Linked DNA regions of Homo sapiens. The protein of the gene in region 1 interacts with the protein of each later gene in a biochemical or structural test. Each region holds a gene or a part of one and is shown on either strand. Other genes may lie near its edges.

What was found.
Region 2: the proteins of HDAC8 (region 1) and MDC1 interact in a test that uses a peptide from one of them, tested with the Homo sapiens proteins (one study listed by BioGRID).
Region 3: the proteins of HDAC8 (region 1) and ESRRA form a complex in vitro, tested with the Homo sapiens proteins (one study listed by BioGRID).

The regions. Positions count from the first base shown.
Region 1 is NC_000023.11:72,457,553-72,465,078, reverse strand, and holds part of HDAC8 (histone deacetylase 8), read left to right. Parts: intron 1-347; coding exon 348-520; intron 521-2,976; coding exon of another isoform or gene 2,977-2,980; coding exon 2,981-3,075; exon of another isoform or gene 3,076-7,526. UniProt on the Homo sapiens protein: Histone deacetylase that catalyzes the deacetylation of lysine residues on the N-terminal part of the core histones (H2A, H2B, H3 and H4).
Region 2 is NC_000006.12:30,700,282-30,707,281, reverse strand, and holds part of MDC1 (mediator of DNA damage checkpoint protein 1), read left to right. Parts: intron 1-1,183; coding exon 1,184-3,661; intron 3,662-3,744; coding exon 3,745-3,864; intron 3,865-3,995; coding exon 3,996-4,178; exon of another isoform or gene 4,179-4,215; intron 4,216-4,404; coding exon 4,405-4,530; intron 4,531-4,618; coding exon 4,619-4,729; intron 4,730-6,649; coding exon 6,650-6,817; 3' UTR 6,818-7,000. UniProt on the Homo sapiens protein: Histone reader protein required for checkpoint-mediated cell cycle arrest in response to DNA damage within both the S phase and G2/M phases of the cell cycle.
Region 3 is NC_000011.10:64,308,524-64,315,523, reverse strand, and holds part of ESRRA (steroid hormone receptor ERR1), read right to left. Parts: intron 1,671-7,000; coding exon of another isoform or gene 1,574-1,670; coding exon 1,457-1,573; intron 1,286-1,456; coding exon 1,157-1,285; intron 784-1,156; coding exon 613-783; intron 524-612; coding exon 254-523; intron 1-253. UniProt on the Homo sapiens protein: Binds to an ERR-alpha response element (ERRE) containing a single consensus half-site, 5'-TNAAGGTCA-3'. Can bind to the medium-chain acyl coenzyme A dehydrogenase (MCAD) response element NRRE-1 and may act as an important regulator of MCAD promoter.

The DNA of each region.
Region 1 (7,526 bases):
TCCCAGATTTTAAAATGGACTAAATGTGTATACTGTGTCCTATGGCTGTTGAAGTTAAATTAATATGAATATTTCAAGGAAGTCTGAATTTTAAAACAGAAGGGCAGATGTGTTCATTGATGAGCGTGGAAGTAGAGGGAAATTTTTTTGTAAGTCAGGTTTATTAAGGTATCATTTACATGTAGTCTGATTCACCTCTCTTAAGTGGAAAGTTTGATGAGTTTGACAGGTTGTGTTTTTTTCCCTTAACTATTTGCTAATTCAATTATACCTCCAACTTGCCCTACCACCACCACTACCCCTAGACCAAACTGACCTATATTTTGTATCCTTTCTATTTTATATAGTGTACTAAAGGAAGTATACCAAGCCTTTAATCCCAAAGCAGTGGTCTTACAGCTGGGAGCTGACACAATAGCTGGGGATCCCATGTGCTCCTTTAACATGACTCCAGTGGGAATTGGCAAGTGTCTTAAGTACATCCTTCAATGGCAGTTGGCAACACTCATTTTGGGAGGAGGTGAGTATAAAGGAAGGTTACCAGAATTTGTTGACCTTCCTCCACATTTTGTCCATTGGCACTGAACTTGGAAAACTTGGCTTTCTTGCATTGGATAATACCAACCTACCTGAGGCCCAGAAGCCTGAGTCAATAAAATCTGCCACCTCCACAGTTCAGAATAAGAAAATACTCTGACACACTTCTCAGCTTAGCATGTGCATTGACTTCTTGGCACTCTAAAGTCTAAATTTCAATTCCTGAAGCAAAGATCCTCTGGTTAAAGGTTACCTCGAATCTTAAAAATAGAGGATGTTAACCCCGGTAGACTTTGATCCACCTTCTCTCAGTGTAGTCTTTGATTTTCAGTTCTAATAATCATCTTTTGGGAACATGTCACTGAAATTCCAACTCTACTTGTATGTAAGTAGTAAACACACAGATTAATTAAATAAGCTGAATTCAAGAATGCCTCTTCCCCCAAAAAGCATGGATTTGTTACAGTGAAGCAAAATTGAGAGATCTATAGTCTCTTGGGCATTCTTGCCTTTGGTGTGTGCTGATTATTTGTATTACTTAGCCAAAAGAAAGCCCGGTCTATTCAATAGTAGCATTTAAACATTTGAGAAAAGAACTTGTCACAACATCTACCACCTTTAAAGATGCCTTGCTTAAAATCTTCTGTCTACCTACCTGGCACAATCTTTATTTCATTGGATGAATAGATTGGTGTGTTAAAATAACATGGTCAAGCAGATTGAGCTTAAAATGCATATATTATAGAAGAGCTAATTGTTGGTTGTTTTGTCAACCTGTTAGAGGAAATTGTGGGGAGGCCTTATTAAATGAGTGGGCATTCAACACAAGTACACAAGCCTTGTCCTTTGGCAGCCTCAAACTCTAGAAGGCTCAAAATTAAAGGTACTTACAAGAGACAACCTCTTATGAAAAGCTGGCAAGAAATATATTAACTTCAACTGAAGAAAAAGATAAAATTGATAAGTACTGTGTGACATATTACTTTTCTTGACAGCACTAAGGATGGTGATTATGATACAGGTACAGCTAAGGAGGGGGAAGAGACCTTTCTACCATATACATCAGGTTAGAACCTGACTTTTGTTTGAGGCTATAATCTTTACATTAAAAGCCTGTTAGCATTCTCTAAAGCCTTTTTGTTTTCTCAGCCCAAAGTTTTGACATTTGAATATATAAGTCTTCTTAGGAAATATGTGTATTCCTGAAAACGCTTGTGCATAAATGGAATTTTTGCAAATCAAATCATATTGTATATGTACCAGAGATAGTTTACTACCTAAGCAAAACCTATAGTGACCTTTTTTTGAAATTAAATACTCATGCCGAATAAGTCTATCTTATAAAGTCAGATTTTTCCGTGTCAGGAGTATTTAAAGTAATACCTGTACTATCTAACTGAAATTCTCAGCCCTATTAACACACAATTCGTAGAGGGAGCCACATCCCCAAGCTTCAGTGGACCCCATTGAGACCTAAAAGACATAGTCAAAGCATCCGTGACCTTTCAAATAGTAGAAAAGCTTAAGAAAAGAGTGACCATATGTCCGAGTTTATACATGTTATCCCAGTGTAATGATTAATAGTGCCCTCTTTTACTTTTAAAAGTATACCATTTTGTATGATAATTTATATGGTCACCCTATCTAAAATAGACCAGATTCTGTTTCCCTTAGGCTGCGTTGAGATTAGGAAATCATTCCATTTTACCCTTATACTCTTAGAATTTAGCTAAAGGCCAATGTTCTAATGCTTGCATGGCAGAGCACATCTATTCAGCACAAAAATGTGCTGATTATTAGCCAGTATAATATGGCCGTTGGGTGACTGTGACAGGACCTGACGAGATGGGTCAGAGCATCCATCAACGGTCCCTTCCTCATCTCACTCTCTTTGATCTCTGCCACCAGGCCTATGTTTTGTGGCAAAAAGGAATGCTGACATCAAAAGAAGGAAGTCTGTTTTTGTCAGCATTTTCCTTTTCTCTTTCCTGGGTTTTTAGGGCTAGATCTGCCAATAGTTTTAAAAATACAAATCACATTCAGCAGTCATTTTATAGAATTGTTGCAAAATTCATCACAGAAATCTTTCCATTGGGTAGATCACCTCAAGAGATCTGGATTCCAGAGATCTGAGTCTTGCTGATGGCTCTTGATGGAACTGAGGAGTTTGGATTCCTCAGGTACATATTTTTGGGGAGATGGGAGCCTATTTAATCTTTGCAGACCTTGGACTGCCCAGTTTTACACTGTGCATGATTTGACTGGTCCACCAAAGTCTGCCTACTAGGTGGTTTAAAAATATCACAAAGGGGGGATTAGGGGAAATTCTGCAATTTGAGGTTGTCTTTTCTTAAAACATTTTTCTCTCTTTCCTTACCCCCCTTCCCTCTCCTGCTGTTTTATGACTATTCTTTCCTAACTTCACAATTCTTGATGGAGACAGGAGGCTATAACCTTGCCAACACGGCTCGATGCTGGACATACTTGACCGGGGTCATCCTAGGGAAAACACTATCCTCTGAGATCCCAGATCATGAGGTAAGTAAGGCTCTGACAAGTCCTCTCTTCTTTAAGGGGAAGAGCTGAGTCATTCCACCTAATCAAAATCACGTCCTCACCACTCAATACCGTTTTGTTGAGAGACACTTCAATAACAATAACACACTGTCTTGGCAGAATAGTGGACTCTTGTTCCAAAATATCCAAGACCTTCTGCCTTTTTGTTTTTTTACAAGAGATCTCAAAGGCCAACCAACTTTAATTTCTCAATTAATTACAGAGACTGTGGGAAGGGGTCACCTGTTCACACAAAGAATTCTTTGGAATATGTGCATATTTTTATCCCCTAGCCTCAAAAAGGAAGGGGCTATTTTTAAAATGTGTAAGCTGGATTCTCATCTTTTTTTTAAGAAGTTTCATAGGTGGTACGTGGCACATGTTCTTTGGTGGTAGTCCTGATCTCTCAATTTTCTTTGACTAATGTAAAATTCAAGAAACCCACAAGCACTACAAAGACCATTGCTGATGTTTTTCTAGCAATTAGTGGCACACAGAGGCTGGAATAGGACCATCCAAAATGTGAAACGTCATTTGAGCCCTTGCCATTTTCTTTAGTCATACAAGATGGGCTTTATGTTTTCCAAAGCAAAGATGTCTGTTCTAGTTTTCCCAAAACAAGTTCATGGAAAGCTGTCTGGGACCTGTGAGTGTGCTGATAATCCCTAATCCAAAGGCATACCTTTGTTCCTACCTATCACCCCAGTTCCCCTGCAAGTAGGAACCATGTTATAGATCAAGATGTATAACTACGGACCTTAGACTAGATGACTTAAAATAACAAACCAGTACATGCAGCCCCACCTTCTCAAGCTATTTCCCAAGGATTAGGGATGCTGCTTTGGTTTTAATGTTATGATTTCTGCCAGATACAGTAGCTGTACACTTGGGAGCATGATGCTTTTTAAAGTTGCTATTATTTTTTAAAAATTAGAAACAACTTAAACTAATTTCCTTCCAATTTTCTCCTAACCTCAGGTGAGGTACAATATGTATCTCACAAAAACCATTCAATATGTCTAGAATACAAATAGAAGGTACACTATAATTTGAGACAATTTGCTGATGTCAGGGTTAATAGAAGTCTCTTTTCTTGGTTTGTCTTACCTTTATTCAGTATTTGGAAGCTTAATGAAATATAAAGGTAAGTGCTGTGAACAAATGTAATCGCTGTTATTGCTGTGGGAATATCTCAGATTGCATTGTAATTTAAAGCTCTGGGACTTTATAAACTGATCAAGTTATGTCAGAAACAAGTTTTAAGCTGTAGAAGCCTGAACTGAGAATGAATGCTCTATTCCTGAGAAGCAAAAGCAAATCCAAAGTTTCATCTGTGTTAAAAGATTGATAAAATTTTAATAAAGATGAATATCGCCTCTGGTACATGGAGAAGCTGTGGGCCTGAATGGGTGTAAGCTGGGCCTCATAAATAGGTGTTCTGTCTTTATACTGAAATATTCTGTAAGATTAAATGAGATATAATGTATGTCAAGTGCCTAACACGTAGTTCCCTGGAATCTAATAGGCACTTTAAAAATGCAAGTTCTCGGCCGGGCATGGTGGCTTACAGCTGTAATCCCAGCACTTTGGGAGGTCAAGGCAGGCAGATCACTTGAGGTCAGGAGTTTGAGACCAGCCTGGCCAACATGGTGAAAGCCCATCTCTACTAAAGATACAAAAAATTAGCTGGGCGTGGTGGTGCACGCCTGTAATCCCAGCTACTCGGGAGGCTGAGGCAAGCGAATTGCTTGAACCCGGAAGGTGGAGGTTGCAGAGAGCCAAGATCATGCCATTGCACTCCAGCCTAGGTGACAGTGTGACACTCCGTCTCAAAAAAAAGAAAAAAAAATGCAAGTTATCTCCTTCTTCTTTGCATGCTGCTCACTTCTTATACCCAGACATTTATGACTATGTCATTCATAAATTTGTCCAAACCTTTTGTGAATTCCTTCTGTCATATCCTTCTGGTTTAAGAGATGTGAGTCATGCAAGAAAGAACAAAGAATAAAATTGAAATGACAGTCTTACAGGTACAATAAGATAACATTTTAATGAAAATTGCCAAAACTAGGCTACACAGTGTGAAGTCATATAAGTTCTGTGGCACAATACACAGTTGCACACAAATATCCTTGTGGTCCTCTGAAATCAGATTAACAAATGGTAGATCAAAAAATATTTGCTGAGCACCCATTATGTGCCAGACACCATGCTAAATGTCTTAGGAGATGCAAAGAGAGAAATTCATCCCCTACCTCAAGCAGCTAGGGAGGGAGGGTGGTGTAAGTGCTGGGGAGACATGCAAATGCACAGATAGTTATAATACAGAGCAGAAAAAGAATAAGACAGTAGGAAGAGTGACTGTGGAGATGTGCATCAAATATAAAGGGGATACAAAGGAGTACATAAAATACCCTGCCCTCCATGAGCTGAAAATATAATCAAGAAATCTAGTAGGTGAAAAGGTCAAGATAATGCAGTGGTCAGTTGCAGCCGGGCTGACCTCACTCTCTTCGCTCTCAGTCTTGGGCTTTAGTTCTTTCATCTCCTAGGGTAATAATCCTCCTCCTCCAAATGCCCGTTCCCTACTTCTCTATTATCTTCCTAGGTCCAGCTTCAAGTCCTGTGCCCTTCAAAAACCCTTACCTAAATACATCAATCCCCTTTGAGCTCTTCCTTCACGTTCATTTATTCCTTGTTTCATTTAACAATTATGTGTTGGGCCCCTACTATTTGCCAGGCCTTATTGAGACCTGGATTCAGAGATACAAAGACTAATGAGATAATCCCAGTGCCCTCCAAAATCTCACGATCTAATAAAGGTGACAGAACAATGTGCTCACATCCAGGACAGATGAGGACCATAGGGGATATGTTTCAACAAGACTTTGAACTGACTCTTAGAGGCTGATTAGGAGTTCGCTAGGTGAAGAAGAAGAAAAAGGCATTCTAGGCAGAGGGAACAAAGATCAGAAAGGGACTGGTGCCTCATGGGACCAGTGAAAAATTTGCTATGTGTAGATTACAGGGTATATGAGAGACAGTAGGAAGGATTAAGGCTTGAATGGAAGTTAAGGCCAGATTATGAAGAGCCCTGAATGCTACATTAAAGAGCTTACACTTTTTTCTGTGAAAACAAATGAGCTTTAACTTTTAAAAAGCTCAGTTGGTAGAGATAGATTGCAAAGAGGAGAGACTTGAGAAACGCAGACCTGTTAAGAGATTCAAATATATACCTATAACACTTACAGTCTGTGCCATTCATTTGGTCATCATTGTTTTGGTTGTCTGCACCACGCCCCCAACCCTAGTGCTTAGCTGAGTGTTAAGTAGCCACCACCTAGTTGAATAAATGAGTGTTTGAGTAAGTGTCTCAATATTCATATTGGGAAACTTCTATTTTTTTAAGATGAAAGAATTGGAAGCGTAATCTAGCCTTTCTCTGGGAACCCAATTTAACCTTAATAGCAACTTTCCATCCTTTGCAAGAGGTATCAGGTAGCCCAGCTATAGGAAACAGGTGTATCCATGGGAGAACATTATATTACCAATGCAGGGAATGGAGTTCAGAAGGCAGAAGCCCAGCACAAATATTAGAAGTGATAAGGGTAGGACTTCAAGTATAGCGCTCATAAAATATAAAACCGGTGATACCATAAAGCCAGTGATGCCATAAGGCCAGTGATGGCATAAAGCCAGTGATGAGGAAGTTAGTTTCAGCCAGAGCACTGGGGAGCCAGGTTGGCCAGCCAAGCAGTCCCAGCTGGGAAAGCTGAGAAGAATGGAGCTTGTATGTATGATTGGCCCAGATATCTCTACCATAGGGAAAGCCCAAAGGTGTCATGGTACCATGAAAAGACCAGTACATGGCAAATTTAGCACAATCACATGGATTATTATGTATAAAAATGTTCTATAGTCCAGTACTACTATTTAGATCCCGTGACTTATCTAGGATAGAGTAGGGCTGGGGTGTGTGTGTGTGTGTGTGTATGTATATGTGTATCATCACATAGGTTTACTAATGGAAAATATTAACACTACTTAACCAGACTGCTTTTTATGGACTGATTAAACTGTACCTCATTCATATTAGGGAACATATGTAGCCATTAAAAAGAATTAGGTCAATTTATATACAAGTATATGTTACTAATAAAAAAACAGCCTTCTTGCACTGTAACCTGTAGATGGCACTGAATCTATAGATTGATTTGTGCAGGAGTAACATCATAACAATATTTAATCTTTTAAGCCATGAATTTATCTTTCTATTTACTTGAGTCTTCTTTAATTCCAAATTATAATCTGTACTCTCCAGTAAACACATCTTACACAAATATTATTGAATTTATCCCTAAGTACTGTATTTCATTATTTTGATCCTATGTAAATGGTATTTTCATTTCAATTTCCAATAGTTTGTTGCCAGA
Region 2 (7,000 bases), on another chromosome or scaffold:
CAGTTTTCTTCCATTTTTGTCACGCCTTGATTGGCTTCTATTCCTTTATCCTCGGCACCCGTTGTTTTCCATATCTGTTTCCTAAGTTGTATCTCCTACCTGACTCAAAAGAAAGACCCTTCGTGTTTCTTCTTTCTTTGCCCCAGCCATCCTTTTCCTTACCATCATCCACGTGTGGAGAACACTATAGTAGCATTATGGAGACAGGTCTGTGGGAAAAAGGTAGCTTCCCAGGTAGATCCCAGTCTAATGGAGGAGAGATCATAGACAGAAAGGAAAATCCAGTGAGCATATTTTTTGTTTTTGTTCTTTTTTGAGACAGAGTCTGTCTCTGTCACCCAGGCTGGAGTGTGCAGTGGCGTGATCTCAGCTTACTGTAACCTCCGTCTCTTGGGTTCAAACAATTTTCCTGCCGCAGCCTCCCAAGTAGCTGGGACTACAGGCGCATGTCACCCGGCTAATTTTTGTGTATTTTTTTGTTTTTTTTGAGACAGTCTCACTCTGTCACCCAGGCTGGAGTGCAGTGGCGCGATCTTGGCTCACTGCAACCTCTGCCTCCCGGGTTCAAGCGACTCTCCTCCCTCAGCCTCCCAGGTAGCTGGGACTACTAGGCGCCTGCCAACACACCTAGCTAATTTTTTTTTTTTTTTTTTTTTTTTTTAGACAGAGTCTTGCTCTGTCCCCCAGGCTGGAGTGCAGTGGCACCATCTCGGCTCACTGCAAGCTCCGCCTCCCGAGTTCACGCCATTCTCCTGCCTCAGCCTTCCAAGTAGCTGGGACTACAGGCGCCCGCCACCACGCCCGGCTAATTTTTTGTATTTTTTAGTAGAGACGGGGTTTCACCGTGTTAGCCAGGATGGTCTCGGTTTCCTGACCTTGTGATCCACCCGCCTCGGCCTCCCAAAGTGCTGGGATTACAGGCATCAGCCACCATGCCTGGCCTTTTTTTTTGTATTTTTAGTAGAGACGGGGTTTCACTATGTTGGCCAGGCTGGTCTTGAACTCCTGACCTCGTGATCCGCCCGCCTCGGCCTCCCAAAGTGCTGGGATTATAGCCGTGAGCCACCACGCCCGGTGGAAATCTGGTAAGCCTATCTAACCATAAACAAGTATCAAGAACAGTATCCAAGTTCTATCTCTTTTCTCCACCTCCTCCCCCTCACTTGCTTCTGTTTCTCCCTAGGGCGATCAGGAATCTCCAGATGCTTGTCTGCCTCCTACAGTACCTGAAGCCCCAGCCCCACCCCAAAAGCCCCTTAACTCTCAGAGCCAGAAACATCTTGCACCTCCGCCCCTTCTTTCTCCCCTTTTACCTTCTATCAAGCCAACCGTTCGTAAGACCAGGCAAGATGGGAGTCAGGAAGCTCCAGAGGCTCCCTTGTCCTCAGAGCTGGAGCCTTTCCACCCAAAGCCTAAAATTAGAACTCGGAAGTCCTCCAGAATGACACCCTTTCCAGCTACCTCTGCTGCCCCTGAGCCCCACCCTTCCACCTCCACAGCCCAGCCAGTCACTCCCAAGCCCACATCTCAGGCCACTAGGAGCAGGACAAATAGGTCCTCTGTCAAGACCCCTGAACCAGTTGTCCCCACAGCCCCTGAGCTCCAGCCTTCCACCTCCACAGACCAGCCTGTCACCTCTGAGCCCACATCTCAGGTTACTAGGGGAAGAAAAAGTAGATCCTCTGTCAAGACCCCTGAAACAGTTGTGCCCACAGCCCTTGAGCTCCAGCCTTCCACCTCCACCGACCGACCTGTCACCTCTGAACCCACCTCTCAGGCTACTAGGGGAAGAAAAAATAGATCCTCTGTCAAGACCCCTGAACCAGTTGTCCCCACAGCCCCTGAGCTCCAGCCTTCCACCTCCACAGACCAGCCTGTCACTTCTGAGCCCACATATCAGGCTACTAGGGGAAGAAAAAATAGATCCTCTGTCAAGACCCCTGAACCAGTTGTGCCCACAGCCCCTGAGCTCCGGCCTTCCACCTCCACAGACCGACCTGTCACCCCCAAGCCCACATCTCGGACCACTAGGAGCAGGACAAATATGTCCTCTGTCAAGACCCCTGAAACAGTTGTCCCCACAGCCCCTGAGCTCCAGATTTCCACCTCCACAGACCAACCTGTCACCCCTAAGCCCACATCTCGGACCACTAGGAGCAGGACAAATATGTCCTCTGTGAAGAACCCTGAATCAACTGTCCCTATAGCCCCTGAGCTCCCACCTTCCACCTCCACAGAGCAGCCTGTCACCCCTGAGCCCACATCTCGGGCTACTAGGGGAAGAAAAAATAGATCCTCTGGCAAGACCCCTGAAACACTTGTCCCCACAGCCCCTAAGCTCGAGCCTTCCACTTCCACAGACCAACCTGTCACTCCTGAGCCCACATCTCAGGCCACCAGGGGCAGGACAAATAGGTCCTCTGTGAAGACCCCTGAAACAGTTGTCCCCACAGCCCCTGAGCTCCAGCCTTCCACCTCCACAGACCAGCCTGTTACCCCTGAGCCTACGTCTCAGGCTACTAGGGGAAGAACAGATAGATCCTCTGTCAAGACTCCTGAAACAGTTGTCCCCACAGCCCCTGAGCTACAGGCTTCCGCCTCCACAGACCAGCCTGTCACCTCTGAGCCCACATCTCGGACCACTAGGGGAAGAAAAAATCGGTCCTCTGTCAAGACCCCTGAAACAGTTGTGCCCGCAGCCCCTGAGCTCCAGCCTTCCACCTCCACAGACCAACCTGTCACCCCTGAGCCCACATCTCGGGCCACTAGGGGCAGGACAAATAGGTCCTCTGTCAAGACCCCTGAATCAATTGTCCCTATAGCCCCTGAGCTTCAGCCTTCCACCTCCAGAAACCAGCTTGTCACCCCTGAGCCCACATCTCGGGCCACTAGGTGCAGGACAAATAGGTCCTCTGTCAAGACCCCTGAGCCAGTTGTCCCCACAGCCCCTGAGCCCCATCCTACCACCTCCACAGACCAGCCTGTCACCCCCAAGCTCACATCTAGGGCCACTAGGAGAAAGACAAATAGGTCCTCTGTCAAGACTCCCAAACCAGTTGAACCAGCAGCCTCTGATCTTGAGCCTTTTACCCCCACAGACCAGTCCGTCACCCCTGAGGCCATAGCTCAGGGTGGTCAGAGCAAAACACTGAGGTCTTCCACAGTAAGAGCTATGCCGGTTCCTACCACCCCTGAATTCCAATCTCCTGTCACCACAGACCAGCCTATTTCCCCTGAGCCTATTACTCAACCCAGTTGCATCAAGAGGCAGAGAGCCGCTGGGAACCCTGGCTCCCTCGCAGCTCCCATTGACCATAAGCCTTGCTCTGCACCCTTGGAACCTAAATCCCAGGCCTCAAGGAACCAAAGATGGGGAGCAGTGAGAGCAGCTGAATCCCTTACAGCCATTCCTGAGCCTGCCTCTCCCCAGCTTCTTGAGACACCAATTCATGCCTCCCAGATCCAAAAGGTGGAACCAGCAGGTAGATCTAGGTTCACCCCGGAGCTCCAGCCTAAGGCCTCTCAAAGCCGCAAGAGGTCTTTAGCTACCATGGATTCACCACCACATCAAAAACAGCCCCAAAGAGGGGAAGTCTCCCAGAAGACAGTGATTATCAAGGAAGAGGAAGAAGATACTGCAGAGAAGCCAGGGAAGGAAGAGGTGAGGAGAGGGTTGGGACCACAAAGCTGGGAAAAATGACTTCAGGGCTCTGAAACTCCCACCAAGATTTTTCTCAATCTCAGGATGTCGTGACTCCAAAACCAGGCAAGAGAAAGAGAGACCAGGCAGAGGAGGAGCCCAACAGAATACCAAGCCGCAGCCTCCGACGGACCAAACTTAACCAAGAATCAACAGCCCCCAAAGTAAGAGACAAAGGCATGGGACTTTGTGGGAGACAGAGATGAGGGGAGGATGCAAGGAGACCTAGAGGATTGTAGAGATGGGTGCTGATGGCATGGGTTGCCGTAACCACCTCAGGTCAACCCTTCCACAGGTGCTCTTCACAGGAGTGGTGGATGCTCGGGGAGAGCGGGCTGTGCTGGCACTGGGGGGAAGTCTGGCTGGTTCAGCGGCAGAGGCTTCCCACCTGGTCACTGATCGCATCCGCCGGACAGTCAAGTTCCTGTGTGCCCTGGGGCGGGGAATCCCCATTCTGTCCCTGGACTGGCTGCATCAGGTGAGAGGCCAAGGGATGATGACAGACCGATATAGTGGCAAGACTGCTCATATAGTGCCCTAGAAAGTGGTGGAAGGGAAGAGGCGTTACAGGAAGACAGGGGCATTGGTGAGCCAGAAGCCTGCATTGATTTAAAAGACATTTTGTGAGCTCTCTCTAAATGCTAGGCAGCAGAGCTGATTGAGGGGCTGGGCTGAGCTTTGATGCTGACTGCTGCCGTCCTTAGTCCCGCAAGGCTGGTTTCTTCTTACCCCCGGATGAATATGTGGTGACCGACCCTGAGCAAGAGAAGAACTTTGGCTTTAGCCTTCAAGACGCACTGAGCAGGGCTCGGGAGCGAAGGCTGCTAGAGGTGAGAGGCTATCTTTTAACCTGTGCTTCAGCCCTCCCTCCAGTGCTTCCCAATCTACAATACCATCTCCATCATTTCTTTCTCTTAGGGCTATGAGATCTATGTGACCCCTGGAGTCCAGCCACCACCACCTCAGATGGGAGAGATTATTAGCTGCTGTGGAGGCACATACCTACCCAGCATGCCTCGGTCCTATAAGGTATGCTTAGGATGTTCTGGGTCTGGGTGAGGTGGCAGTGGCAGTTAAAGAGGTGGCTGGAATGGCAAAGATTGGAGGGAAAAAAATGGAGGTTCAGAAAGGAATATAAAGTAGTGAGAGGGTGGGGGAAAAGACCTATGGTATAGAAAGGGATAGGAATGAGGGGACAGATCTGCTGATACCCCCATATAACAATCACCGAGATTCAGCAGCAGCTTAATTTAGATTATGCTACATTTGCTCCATCTATCCCTTTTTTCCTTTGATTTTCTTTTTTTTTTTTTTTTTTTTTTTTTGAGATGGAGTCTCACTCTCAGGCTGGAGTGCAGTGGCACAATCTCGGCTCACTACAATCTCCGCCTCCTGGGTTCACACCATTCTCCTGCCTCAGCCTCCCGAGTAGCTGGGACTACAGGTGCCCGCCACCACGCCCGGCTAATTCTTTTGTATTTTTAGTAGAGATGGGGTTTCACTGTGTTAGCCAGGATGGTCTTGATCTCCTGAGGTCATGATCTGCCCGCCTCGGCCTCTCAAAGTGCTGGGATTACAGGCGTGAGCCACCGCGCCCGGCTTTTTCCTTTGATTTTCTTTGCTGAAGTATTTCATTTCTTTTTATTTTTCTTTATTCTTTCTTTTTTTCCTTTCTCTTTCTTTGCTGAAATATTTTAAAGCAAACTGCCAATATTATATTATTTCTTCCTACATACTTAAATATATATCTCTAAGAAATACGTACATTTTATTTCATAATCACAATGCCATTATTGATCCTAAGCAAAATTAACAGTAGTTTATTGGTCATTTGCTCACACTCCATTAATAAAATTTCTCCCATTGTCTGAAAAATGTCTCTATACAGTTGTTCAAATCAGGATTCAAATAAGGTCCACATACTGCCACACCTATTATCTTCTTAATTATCTTTACTCTAGAGCATCCCTTAACCCACCCAGCTTTTTTTATGCCATCTATTTCCTGCAGAAGCTGGGTCACTTGTCCTTTAGAATGTTCCTCAGTCTGGAATTTTGGGTTTGCCTCCTTGTCATATAATTTATCTTGTTCCTCTGTACTCCATATTTCCTGGAAATTGCAGATAATTGTAAAAGCTTGAATAAATTCAGGTTCATCTTTCTAGCAAAAGTATTTTTTTTTTTTGAGAGAGTCTCACTCTGTCGCCAGGCTGGAGTACAGTGGAGCAGTCTTGGCTCACTGCAACCTCCATCTCCCGGGTTCAAGCTGTTCTCCTGCCTCAACCTCCCGAGTAGCTGGGACTACAGGCGCACACCACCACGCCCAGCTAATTTTTTTATTTTTACTAAAGACGGGGTTTCACCATGTTGGCCAGGATGGTCTCGATCTCTTGACCTCGTGATCCACCCACCTCGGCCTCCCAAAGTGCTGGGATTATAGGCGTGAGCCACTGTGCCTGGCCTCTAGCAAGAGTATTTCTTTTTTTTTTTTCTTTTTTTTTTTCTTTTGAGATGGAGTCTTGCTCTGTAGCCCAGGCTGGAGTGCAGTGGCGCGATCTCGGCTCACTGCAAGCTCCGCCTCCTGGGTTTTCACGCCATTCTCCTGCCCCAGCCTCCCGAGTAGCTGGGACGACAGGCACCCGTCAGCGCGCCCGGCTAATTTTTTTTTTTTTTTTTTTTTGTATTTTTAGTAGAGACAGGGTTTCACCGTGGTCTTGATCTCCTGACCTCGTGATCCACCCGCCTCAGCCTCCCAAAGTGCTGTGTAATTACAGGCATGAGCCACTGCGCCCGGCCTAGCAAGAGTATTTCATAGACAGTATGCGGTGTGCTTCACTTGGCTTCATATTAGGAGGTATTATTTTAGTGATGGTAAGACTGGTTAGTGGGTCCTGAACCCATTTCTAGGATTCTTTTTCACCTGATTTTGCCTTTGCTCTGTCTTCCCCAGCCTCAGAGAGTTGTGATCACATGCCCTCAGGACTTCCCTCATTGCTCCATTCCACTACGGGTTGGGCTGCCCCTCCTCTCGCCTGAGTTCCTGCTGACTGGAGTGCTGAAGCAGGAAGCCAAGCCAGAGGCCTTTGTCCTCTCCCCTTTGGAGATGTCATCCACCTGAGAACTCCACTACCCTTTTCCCTCCCAGACCACGAATTAGAAGATATGTGGAAGAAAGAACTCAGGGCGTTAGAAAGGATTGGGGTATATTGATACAACTTGTCCTGGAACATGGGTGGGACCAGAAATCTTTATGAATAAATGAAAAGATAAGGGATTTGGAAGCCACAGGTTGTTTTTTGTT
Region 3 (7,000 bases), on another chromosome or scaffold:
TGTGGCCACCTTGTACCCTCCCCACCTTCCCTCCCACTAAATGACCTTTCTGCATTAGTGTGGCACTAGGGCTCAAAATCCTGTGTGCAGTTTGGAGCCTGCACTTGGCTTGCTTTTTGACTTCTAGCAAGTCATTGTTCTTCCCTAAGCCTCAGTTTTCGTTATCTGCAAAATGGGGCTGTGCTACCGTCACTGAGTTAACCTGAAGACCTTACGGAGACACCTCACCTGTCAGTGCCTGCCCCAGACTCACCTGAATTGGCAAGGGCCAAGGCCTTTAGTAGAACATACTCCTCTCGCTCCAGCCGCAGGGCCTGCAGCCGCCGCACTAGTTGCAGCAGGGCAGCCCCCAGTTCCCCCAGGCCAGCTGCCCGTGCCCCCTCTTCATCCAGGACTAAGTCCTCAGCGAAGGCCAGCTCATCCTGCAGTGGCAGTGAGCGCTGGGCCACACCCAGCACCAGCACCTCCATCCACACGCTCTGCAGTACTGACATCTGGTCAGACAGCGACAGCGATGAGAAGCCTAGGGGGCAGCGGGGAGCGGGCCTGGCTGAGCAAGCGCACCAGAGCCGGGCCCGTTCAGGGCAGCCCCGGGTCACCTGGGCCCTTTACCTGGGATGCTCTTGGCCCAGCTGATGGTGACCACAATCTCTCGGTCAAAGAGGTCACAGAGGGTAGCCACGGCTGGGAGGTGCCCATCAGGGCCTGCGGGGTCAGGCATGGCATAGAGCTTCTCAGGCTCAACCACCAGCAGATGAGACACCAGTGCATTCACTGGGGCTGCTGTGACAATTAGAGGACAAGAGTCAGGAGCACTCGAATCTGTCAGGCCTCAGGGGTCAAGCATCTTCCCACAGTGGCTCCCCCTGTGGCCTTCCTCAGTAGCAGCTGTCCAGTGACTTCCCTCCAGGGAAGAGCGCTAACTGTCTCCCAGGGAAAGCCCGTGTGTTTGTGGACAGGCTGTGAGTGTTGGAAAATCGTCCCTGTTCCCAGTTCTACTACTTTTCCTGATGCAGGAAAAGGCAGTTTCACATGTCTTGGGGAAATGAGTGAGTGAAGAGACGAAGGGGAAATACAGGTCCCAGTGCCCAAGGTAACTATGATGCCACACATAGGCCTCCGGTTTCGTAGCCCCAGGTACCCACAGTGCTCTCACCTGTCTTCCGGGGGCCTCCAGCGACTGCCAGGGGCCCAGCAGGGAAGGGGCCCGGGAAGGGCAGTGGGTCCACCTCCGGCCGCCGCTTGTACTTCTGCCGCCCACCCCGGACGCGGTCCAGGCGCACTCCTTGAATTGTGGGACAGATAGGACTGTGACTGTGGTGCTGTGGGCAGGGTGGGGCTTGCTCTCCAGAGCTGTCCTCCCCGAGTCCACTCACCAGAACTCCCAGGCCTCACCCCCACCTGGCCCGGGTCCCCGACTCCCCCAGCCCTCGCCCAGCCCCTGCCCAGCGCTCACCCTCCTTGAGCATGCCCACCCGCAGGCACTTGGTGAAGCGGCAGGCCTGGCAGGCCTTGCGTCTCCGCTTGGTGATCTCACACTCGTTGGAGGCCGGACAGCTGTACTCGATGCTCCCTGCCAGGAAGAGGCAGGGCTCCAGTGGCGGCCTCCCGGGGCTGGGAGGGGACCCAGCTGACAGGAGAGCCCTGACTCTCCCCGGGCAAGCACAGGTCTGGGGGTATGGGGAGGAAAGGGAGAGCAGGGGGCCATGAGCAGGCAGGGAGGGGAGTGGCTGCTGGGCGGGGGAGCCCTGCCTGGATGAGGGAGGAGCTGGACCAGGCAGCGGGGCTGCATCTCAGCCCCAAGCCTCATCTCTGGACCACACTGCCCTCATCTGCCGACATCAAGGGCCACAAGGACCTCTGCATTGCTAAATCCAGTGGTCAATTCTTAGTCCTCATGTTACTTGGCCTAAAAGGAGGATCTAAGGCTGTTGATCACTTCCTGCTCCTAGAAACACTGAAACACTTTCTTCTTTTGCTTCTAGGACAGCATACACTCTGGTTTTCCTCCCACCGCACCAGCCACTTTGTGGTTTCTGAGCATCTTCCCAAGCTCTTCCATCCAGACTGCCAGGGCTGTCCTTGGAGCTCATCTCCAATCCCATGGCAATCTTCCCCAGCCGTGGGGCTCTCACGTTTCTACCTCTAGCCTGGACTTGCTGTGAGCTCCAGACCCATCTCTCCAGCTGCCTCCTTGACATCCTGCATGTCTAGAAGGCATCTCGGACCGAACACAGCCTACGTGGACTCCACGTGTTCACTTGCCCAAGAAGAAACCTAGGCAGAATCTCTGGTTCCTCTCACACCCCACATCCAAGCCACCGACACATTCTGGTGGGCTTTACCTCCTCCAAGGTCCAGAATCCGCCTCCTGCCCCTGGCAACTACTTCCACCCTTGACCTGATAGTCACTGTCACCTCGCCCCTCGCTTGGCTGTCCCTGCTTGCTCCAGTCTGTTCTCGACTCAGCAGCCAAGAGGGTCCTATTAAGCCTCCATTACATCCTGTACCTCCTCTTCTCAAAACCCTCTGGGGATTTCCCTTCTCTGAGTCCAAGCCAAAGCGAACCTATGTCCTCCTAGGCCTACGCCCCTGCTTCTTGCCTCCTTTTGACCTCTACTCCTTGCTCTCGCCTCCTCCATGTTCCTCAAACAGGCCCTGCCTGGAGCTCTAGTCCTGAAGTCCACACAGGCTCCCTCACCTCCCTCTGCTCACTGTCACCTTGAAGATCTTCCCTGGCCACCCTGTGATAATGCCAAATCCCTTTGCAGAGTCCTCCTGGCCTCTGAGCCCTGCTTCTGGTTTCTCTTCAGCCCTCAGCACAACAGACCACGCTGCATATGCACTCACCTATCTTGTTTATTACGCCTCCCCCTTCAGTGGCAGCTCCACCGGGGCAGGAACTGGCCCCAGCACTAGCAACGAGGCCTGGCACATGGTGGGTGCTGGCAGCCCTCCCGGCCTCACAGGGCCCCGCAACGACCAAATGACACAGCTAGACAGCAGGCCCGCAGCACATTTCTCCTCGCGGTGCATTTTCTCCTACCCCCTATTTGCGCTTCTGCACTCAGCTCAAGACACCACGGCCGGGCACGGTGGCTCACGCCTGTAATCCCAGCACTTTGGGAGACCGAGGTGGGTGGATCACCTGAGGTCAGAAGTTCAAGACCAGCCTGGCCAACATGGTAAAACCCCGTCTCTACTAAAAGTACAAAAATTAGCTGGGTGTGGTGGCAGGCACCTGTAGTCCCAGCTACTCAGGAGGCTGAGGCAGGAGAATCGCTTGAACCCGGGAGGCAGAGGTTGCAGTGAGCCGAGATTGTGCCACTGCACTCCAGCCTGGGTGACACAGTGAGACTCCATCTCGAAAAAAAAAAATTAGCCGGACATGGTGGTGCATGTCTGTAATCCCAGCTGCTCCGGAGGCTGAGGCAGGAGAATCGCTTGAACCCGGGAGGCAGAGGCTGCAGTGAGCCAAGATCGTGCCATTGCACTCCAGCCTGGGCAACCAGAGCGAAACTCTGTACCAAAAAAAAAAAAAGGCCAGGCGCAGTGGCTCACGCCTATAATCCCAGCACTTTGGGAGGCCGAGGCAGGCAGATCACGAGGTGAGGAGTTTGAGACCAGCCTGACCAACACGGTGAAACCCTGTCTCTACTAAAAATACAAAAATTAGCTGGGCGTGTGCCTGTAGTCCCAGCTACTCGGGAGGCTGAGGGAGAACAATCGCTTGAACCTGGGAGGCGGAGGTTGCAGTAAGCTGAGATCGTGCCACTGTACTATAGCCTGGCAACAGAGTGAGACTCTGTCTAAAAAAAAAAAGAGGCCGGGAGCGTAATCCCAGCACTTTGGGAGGCCGAGGCGGGTGGATCACGAGGTCAGGAGATCGAGACCATCCTGGCTAACATGGTGAAACCCAGTCTCTACTAAAAATACCAAAATTAGCCGTGCGTGGTGCCATGCGCCTGTAATCCCAGCTATTGGGGAGGCTGAGGCAGGAGAATCGCTTGAACCCGGGAGGCGGAGCTTGCACTGAGCCGAGATCGCGCCACTGGACTCTAGCCTGGGCAACAAAGCGAGACTCCGTCTCAAAAAAAAAAAAAAAAAGACAAGCCCTCTGGAGCCTCAGAACCAGCACCTCCCCTTCCTGCACATACCACAGCGGTAATAAGACAAGTCTGTGCAACTCACTGTTGCCCAGCTCTCCCCTCTGCCAGGATGTAAACTGCCTGAGGGCAGAAACAGCCCTGCTTCAGCCCCAGCTATGTCCCCAAGGCCTGGAACACTGGCCAGGACAGCAAAGAACAGGTCTGTGCCGAACAGGGACTCTGGCTACCACATACCTTTATGACCTTGGGCAAGTCCCATACCTAACCCCTTGAACCCTCAGTTTCCCAGCTGTAAAAGTGCCCCACAGAGTTGGGTCGTGAGAATTAAAGGGGATAATATGGTCAAAACATCCAGCATGGTTCATGACACCTAAGTGCTCAATATACAAGTCCTATTCACAGCCAGCACACAATAAATATTTGTCAATAGTCAACATACAGTGAGGGGCCCCAGGGTAGGTAGGAGATACCCGCACCCTGGCCGGCTGGCTCACTGTTCTTCAGAGTGGGAAGGGTGCACAAAGTTTAAGATTGGTGGATTTTGGCCAAGTTAAAACTTGCTGGATTGGCGGGGTGCAGTGGCTCACACCTATAATCCCAGCACTTTGGAAGCCCGAGGAGGGCAGATCGCCTGAGGTCAGGAGTTTGAGGCCAGCCTGGCCAACATGGTGAAACCCCATCCCTACTAAAAACACAAAAATTAGCCGGGCATGGTGGCAGGCGCCTGTAATCCCAGCTACTTGGGAGGCTGAGGCAGGTGAATGGCTTGAACCCGGGAGGCAGAGGTTGCAGTGAACCACGACTGCAGGCCGTTGCACTCCAGCCTGGACAACAAGAGCAAAACTCCATCTCAAAAAAAAAAAAAAAAAAAAAAAAAACCTGGCCAGGAGCAGTGGCTCACGCCTGTAATCCCAGCACTTTGGGAGTCCAAGGCAGGTGGATCTCGAGGTCAGGAAATCAAGACCATCTTGGCTAACACGCTGAAACCCCGTCTCTACTAAAAGTACAAAAAATTAGCCAGGCGTGGTGGCGGGCACCTGTAGTCCCAGCTACTCAGGAGGCTGAGGCAGGAGAATGGTGTGAACCCGGGAGGCGGAGCTTGCAGTGAGCCGAGATCGTGCCACTGCACTCCAGCCTGGGCGACCACACGAGACTGTCTCAAAAAAAAAAAAAAAAACGTGCTGGAATGTCACAATCAGTCATTCAGCGTCTGTCCAAAGTTCGGTGTTATTAGTAATAAGCAGAGGAAGCAGTCTAACATTGAAGAGCTCAGCTCTGGACCTATACTGACCCAAGTTCAAATCTTGGTTCTGCCATTTCCTAGTTGTGAGACTTCAACAAAGTTTCAAATGCCTCTCTTAGTTTCAGTTATAACAGTACTGACACCTTATAGGGTTGCTGTGGGGACTAACTGAGATCATAAAAGAATACAGTGCCTAGCACAAGGTAAGCACTCAAGATTTTTTTTTTTTTTTTTTTTTTGATACGAACTCTCACTCTGTCACCCAGGCTGGGAGTGCAGTGGCACGATCTTGGCTAACTCCAACCTCTGCCTCCTGGGTTCCAGCAATTCTCCTGCCTCAGCCTCCTGAGTAGCTGGGACTACAGGCACCCACCACGACACCTGGCTAATTTTTGTATTTCTAGTACAGACAGGGTTTCACCATGTTGGCCAGGCTGGTCTCGAACTCCTGACCTTGTGATCCTCCCATCTTAGCCTCCGAAAGTGCTGAGATTACAGGTGTGAGCCACCACACTTGGCCTTTTTTTTTTTTTTTTTAATTATACGTGTTATAGCCCCCAAAGTAACCAATGGTTACATAAAAGCAGAAATAACGGAAATAATAGGCCCTTCCCAGGCAATGCTTAATGTCAGCATCTTGCTCATTCCCCCAAATTCTGATAAGCTTTCCTGAGTGAGAAAAAAATTAGTGACTTTTAAGAGCAGACATGCCTGTAAGTCCTTTTTTTTTTTTTTTTGAGATGAGAGTGTCTCATTCTGTTGCCCAGACTAGAGTGCTGTGGCATGATCTCAGCTCACTGCAACCTCTGCCTCCCGGGTTCAAGCAATTCTCCTGCCTCAGCCTCCCAAGTAGTGGGATTACAGGCACTCACCACCACGCCCGGCTAATTTTTGTATTTTTAGTAGAGACGGGGTTTTACCATGTTGGCCAGGCTGGTCTCGAACTCCTGACCTCGTGATCCGTCTGCCTCAGCCTCCCAAAGTGCTGGGATTACAGGCCATGAGCCACCAAGCCCAGCGTTTTTGGGTTTTTTTGTTTTTGTTTTTGTTTTTGTTTTTTGAGGTGGAGTTTCACTTTTGTTGCGCAGGCTAGAGTGCAATGGCGCGATCTGGGCTCATTGCAACCTCTGCCTCCCAGGTTCAAGCAATTCTCCTGTCTCAGCCTCTTGAGTGGGATGACAGGCGCATGCCACCATGCTTGGCTAATTTTTGTATTTTCAGTAGAGACGGGGTTTCATCACATTGGTCAGGCTGGTCTCAAACTCCTGACCTCAGGTGATCCGCCCGTCTCGGCCTCCCAAAGTGCTGGGATTACAGGCATGAGCCACCGCGCCCAGCCTTTTTTTTTTTTTTTTTGAGACGGAGTCTCACTCTGTCGCCCAGGCTGGAGTGCAGTGGCGTGATCTTGGCTCACTGCAACCTCCGCCTCCTGGGTTCACGCCATTCTCCTGCCTCAGCCTCCCAAGTAGCTGGGATTACAGGCGCCCGCCACCATGCCCAGCTAATTTTTTGTATTTTTAGTAGAGACAGTGTTTCACCGTGTTAGCCAGGATGTTCTCAATCTCCTGACCTCATGATCCGCCCGCCTCGGCCTCCCAAAGTGCTGGGATTACATGAGCCACAGTGCCCGGCCTTTTTTTTTTTTTTT